Linked DNA regions of Homo sapiens: region 2 is linked to region 1. Evidence: fine-mapped expression QTL. A gene starts in region 1. The other region holds a variant in brackets. All regions are shown on one strand. Distances are from middle to middle.

Region 1 (2,906 bases):
ACAATGGGTGGTTGGTATCTATTAAACAAATGAATGTGTAAATGAATGATAGAAAGTAATTGGTGAAAAGTACGCTGAGATAGAGTCTGATCACAGGCAAAAAAAAAAAAAAAATGGAAGAATTAATAGTCCAATGGCACTTTTCTTATAAAACTGAATTACATAGTCAAACCATCATTTAAAATAATCTTACAAGGAAAACAACATTAATGTGCGTCTGTTGAGACGGATTATGCTGTTTTGGAATTAGGAAGAGAATGTGCAGTTCGCTGTTTGCTTTCAGACTGTTTGTTTGTTTTGTTTATTAAACTGGCGTCTCCAGCTCTGCAGCCCAGCCTGTGGAACCTAAATGGCCCAGGTCCCAGGAGTTCCCATCGGAGCCGTGGGCGTCCCCAGGGTTTAGAAAGGCTCCCCAGGGGCCCAAGCTGCCGGCGAGTGCAGCTCCCGCCGGCGCCACCTCTGCGGTCTGGAGCGGCGAGGACGATCCCAGAGAGGCGCCCCCACTGCCTCGGTCGTCGGGTTCTTAAGTTTTTCTCTCCAAAAATTTAATGGATAGTTTTCTTTTGCTTCTGTTTCTGACTTGATTAAAGAGGCGGAAAAAAAGGAGTTTGACTCCAAGAAGAATGATAGTAGCAGAAGGCGCATCTGGCTTTACTTTCCAAATTCCATCAAAGTTTGTGTTTTGTTTCATTTGACAGCGATCCCGTGAACGTCTCCTCTGGGGAAATGGCGCGACCAAAGCCCGCCAAGCCCAGCCTGCGAACTGGAGGATTTATTAATGTAATATGTTAAACAAAACCTCGACAGACACAAACTCAAAGGAAACCGTGCGCTCCTTAAGTCAAAGGCATCTGTTCTGGAAGCAGAACCCGGTTTGCTGTTGGTAACCAGCGTTAAGAGCAGGATTTTTAAACATGATAATGGATAAAATAAAAGAAAAGCGAAGTCCCGCGGTCCTCTGACTCCTATTCATTATCTCCAGCAGCATATGGGACCATTCTCCTACGTATCCTCGCCTTTTTCTTCTGAAAAAGCAAAAGCAACCAAGCCTGTCCCGCTTCAGAGCAATCCTACTCTTTGTGCCTGAGTAGTGCCACCACCACTACTTCCTCCTCCTCCCGCCTCCTCCTACCCCGCCCTCCTGCCGCTGGCTTTCGCTCTGGCGAGGAGGCGGCCGGCTCCCTTTGCGCCGGGAAGCCGGAGCCGCGATTGGGCGACGGTCCCTGAGCCTCCAGTTCTGCGTCGGTTTCAAGGCTCCTCCCTCCTGGTGAAAGACAGACTACGGGGCGCCTGGAAACCGGTCCGAGGGCGCGCGAGGCAGAGGAGAGGGAGCGAGTTGAGGGATTGACACAAATGGTCAGGCGGCGGCGGCGGAGAAGGAGGCGGAGGCGCAGGGGGGAGCCGAGCCCGCTGGGCTGCGGAGAGTTGCGCTCTCTACGGGGCCGCGGCCACTAGCGCGGCGCCGCCAGCCGGGAGCCAGCGAGCCGAGGGCCAGGAAGGCGGGACACGACCCCGGCGCGCCCTAGCCACCCGGGTTCTCCCCGCCGCCCGCGCTTCATGAATCGCAAGTTTCCGCGGCGGCGGCGGCTGCGGTACGCAGAACAGGAGCCGGGGGAGCGGGCCGAAAGCGGCTTGGGCTCGACGGAGGGCACCCGCGCAGAGGTCTCCCTGGCCGCAGGGGGAGCCGCCGCCGGCCGTGCCCCTGGCAGCCCCAGCGGAGCGGCGCCAAGAGAGGAGCCGAGAAAGTATGGCTGAGGAGGAGGCGCCTAAGAAGTCCCGGGCCGCCGGCGGTGGCGCGAGCTGGGAACTTTGTGCCGGGGCGCTCTCGGCCCGGCTGGCGGAGGAGGGCAGCGGGGACGCCGGTGGCCGCCGCCGCCCGCCAGTTGACCCCCGGCGATTGGCGCGCCAGCTGCTGCTGCTGCTTTGGCTGCTGGAGGCTCCGCTGCTGCTGGGGGTCCGGGCCCAGGCGGCGGGCCAGGGGCCAGGCCAGGGGCCCGGGCCGGGGCAGCAACCGCCGCCGCCGCCTCAGCAGCAACAGAGCGGGCAGCAGTACAACGGCGAGCGGGGCATCTCCGTCCCGGACCACGGCTATTGCCAGCCCATCTCCATCCCGCTGTGCACGGACATCGCGTACAACCAGACCATCATGCCCAACCTGCTGGGCCACACGAACCAGGAGGACGCGGGCCTGGAGGTGCACCAGTTCTACCCTCTAGTGAAAGTGCAGTGTTCCGCTGAGCTCAAGTTCTTCCTGTGCTCCATGTACGCGCCCGTGTGCACCGTGCTAGAGCAGGCGCTGCCGCCCTGCCGCTCCCTGTGCGAGCGCGCGCGCCAGGGCTGCGAGGCGCTCATGAACAAGTTCGGCTTCCAGTGGCCAGACACGCTCAAGTGTGAGAAGTTCCCGGTGCACGGCGCCGGCGAGCTGTGCGTGGGCCAGAACACGTCCGACAAGGGCACCCCGACGCCCTCGCTGCTTCCAGAGTTCTGGACCAGCAACCCTCAGCACGGCGGCGGAGGGCACCGTGGCGGCTTCCCGGGGGGCGCCGGCGCGTCGGAGCGAGGCAAGTTCTCCTGCCCGCGCGCCCTCAAGGTGCCCTCCTACCTCAACTACCACTTCCTGGGGGAGAAGGACTGCGGCGCACCTTGTGAGCCGACCAAGGTGTATGGGCTCATGTACTTCGGGCCCGAGGAGCTGCGCTTCTCGCGCACCTGGATTGGCATTTGGTCAGTGCTGTGCTGCGCCTCCACGCTCTTCACGGTGCTTACGTACCTGGTGGACATGCGGCGCTTCAGCTACCCGGAGCGGCCCATCATCTTCTTGTCCGGCTGTTACACGGCCGTGGCCGTGGCCTACATCGCCGGCTTCCTCCTGGAAGACCGAGTGGTGTGTAATGACAAGTTCGCCG
Region 2 (2,906 bases), 23 kb after region 1:
CTTGGTGGAAGATCAGTGCTCAACTTTCAGGAGTGGGATGTACACCAATAGTACCCGTGGATCTACCCTTAAAGCCAACTAAGAAGGCAGCCTGAGAATGAACACTGAAAGGGCTGTTTTCATAAAAAATCTGTAAGAGATTTTTCTTTTTTCTTTTACTTTTTATTTTAATGAAAATCTTTGGCATGCTGTGCCACTACATTGATAAAATGCACCATGAAAAGTGCCCTACTTCATTGGAGAATTCATTATGACTTCGTGGAGCAGAAAGAGTTGGCTCATTGGCAGCAATTTGAGTGGATTTGGTTCGCTGGAGGTATCATGTTACTGCGTCATCAGTGCAGGTGGGGCTGACTGGCTTTGACAGTAAAAGGAGGTGGCCCAGTGCCAACAGGGGCAGCAGAGGGGCTGCAGGAGTGCCTTCATAGATGCCGCACAGATGCTGCACACTGCCAGAGCAAATCTCAGGGAAGGAAAGATGGGGCGTCATACAGTGATTGTGAAGATTATGCTCTTGAGCACATGTGAAACACCTTTCGGAGCTCCTGAATTTAGTAGGCAAGGGTGAATTTTGAGAATAGACTGAAAGAGTTAACCATAGTTAAGCCTGCCTGGGGTGTAGGTTATGAATAGAGTAACATGTAATTTATTGTACAAACAGAGATGCCTTTGAAAATGAAGGATTTGCTACTAATAATTACACCAAGACAACAGATATAAACTATGACTGCCCTGGACAAACTGGAATGCATTGTCACACTATGAGGGACTGTCACCTTCGATTGTTAGTTTTGCCATGCTTGCTCTTTTATTCTAACCATGTACTGTTTTAAAATCAGAAAAATATAAGACACTATAATTTACCAGAAGAAATAAAAATCGAGTACGAGGGCAAAGATAGCAGCATAATGTTTACATTGTTAGGGTGACCCTAGTCCCCCCAACCATCATCCCCCTCCTGACCCCACATCACAGTTTAGAAAATTACATCTGCAAATTATTCAACATCCACTGGCGACCCCAGAGCAGCCTACCTTCCTTAGCAAGGCCATGCTGTCCCAGCAGTTCTGATGTGCCCTCACTTTAGTTATTTGATTTTCTGCTTTTTCTCTCTGAGATAGTAGCCTTCCAAGGTTCAAAGGGACATTTGAATGTTAAAAGCCTGGAGGTAAAGTTTACAAACACAATGCTTCCTCATCACAGCTGGCCACATCAGTCCTGTCAAAATGCTAATGGTAGAATGTTTCTTTATAAATAGAGTACCCATGAGATCAAGATCTTAATTTACTTTGTTCCTAATTCACAAAGGGAAGTTGCCTTCTTTTTTAAAACTAAGTTGAGGTTCTGTCTTTAGTAAATTCTTACATGTAGCTGGAAATTTCCATTGCAAAGTGTACTTGTTTTGTTTTAAGCTCTTTCCAAGTGACTTTATAACTTTTTTAACGTTTTGGCGTCGGCACTCTTCCTCTGTCCACAGAGCTGGTAAAGACAGAATTATGAACTCTTCTGGCGTTGTCCCAGCCCACTTCTTGGAGCCTTTATGAGAGAAGAAGTTTGGCAACTCACCTCCCAGTGCCCACAGGGGTGCAAATGAAGCTGGAGCTGAAGCCATCTATGAGAGCAGCTGGACTGCCAGTCCAATGACTATAACTCTGATAGCTCCACACAAGTTGAGAAGCAGCTTTTCAGCTGTGACAGGCAA[G/A]GCCCAGCAGGGGAAGTAGCTCACTGTCTGGTTTGATTTAAGATCACTGCCAAAAAATTTTCTTCATTAACTTCACAGTTATCTAAGCTCTATGAAGGCAGGGGTTTTTGTGTTTTGCTTATAGGAGTATGCTCAGGGCCTAGAACAGTGCCTGGGTTATAGTAGGAGCTCAAAAATATTTGTCGAATAAAAGCATATTTCTTCACCTTCAAAATGTCAAGATGGGATATTAATAAAACCTGTATCCAGGACTGATAGTCAGCTGATTTCCATTCTGATATATCATTTCAGTGTCACAGGATTGTTGTGGTGATTGTATGAATTAAAACATGAATTAAAGCACTTACAATAAAACCTGACACATATCAAGTGGTTAATAAATGTCAGCTGCCATCAATTTCAAGGCACAGAGGTTGACACCGAGGAAGATTGGGGAACACTGTAGGATCCCAGCAGGGGGCACTCCTGAGTTCAAGAAGCAATAACTGGTTCCTGCTGGGTCCTACTTGACTATGGGGAAGGACAGTTGCCAATGATGCTGTAGTCCTTGCTTCATGGGCCCAGGCTTACACCTGGCCAGAGGTCATACATTAACTTGTCATCAATAAATGGCATTTATGCCATCTGCACATGGATACTGTTCTCTTAGTGAGGAGATGGCAAAGTTCTGAAAGAATGGATCACAGGGCAGATAAGTTTTATCAGAGCGTGGGACAGTGCCCAAGAAGGGATAGCCCAATACTGCCAGGGTGGGGCACTTTGGAGGAGAGTGGCTAAGAGTGAGTGGCACGGGGAGCAGGGTGTAAGCAGAATAGGTAGGGGGGCTCTGCCACTAAAATATCTATTGACTACCCAGGAATAAAATGTGTTACAAAGATGAGAAGCTCAACAGTATTCTCAGAAGGCTTTTCAACTTAATTTCCCTGTTCCTTTTCCTAATTAGAACCTTGATCAATTTAGGATACAGTATATGGTACTCTTTGGTTAGGTTTATGTGTATGTAAGAATCAGGTCAATTGTAGAAGGTTAAACTGGATTAGAATGTATACTATTTGTGCATTTGGTAACAATAATTCTTATACTTCCCATTTGTATAATGCATTGTATATATTATATACAGATAATAATCTATATTATATAGAGGTTATATTATATATAGATTTCTATATATAATCTACTTTGTTACTATATATAATCTATATAC

The links.
Region 2: its variant is fine-mapped to the expression of FZD1 in whole blood (TOPMed, PIP above 0.99). The same link has a PIP of 0.9 or more in blood mononuclear cells.

Annotation. Positions count from the first base shown.
Region 1 is chr7:91,263,134-91,266,039 of GRCh38, forward strand. FZD1 (frizzled class receptor 1) reads left to right here and starts at 1,300. Exons shown (of 1, transcript NM_003505.2): 1 at 1,300-2,906. The coding sequence starts at 1,748. RefSeq lists an enhancer at 1,085-1,264 and silencers at 1,385-1,894, 1,985-2,044.
Region 2 is chr7:91,286,273-91,289,178 of GRCh38, forward strand. It overlaps LOC124901695 (a long non-coding RNA gene), which reads right to left and starts at 1,160. Exons shown (of 2, transcript XR_007060425.1): 1 at 1,035-1,160. The variant G/A (reference allele first, on the strand shown) is at 1,703.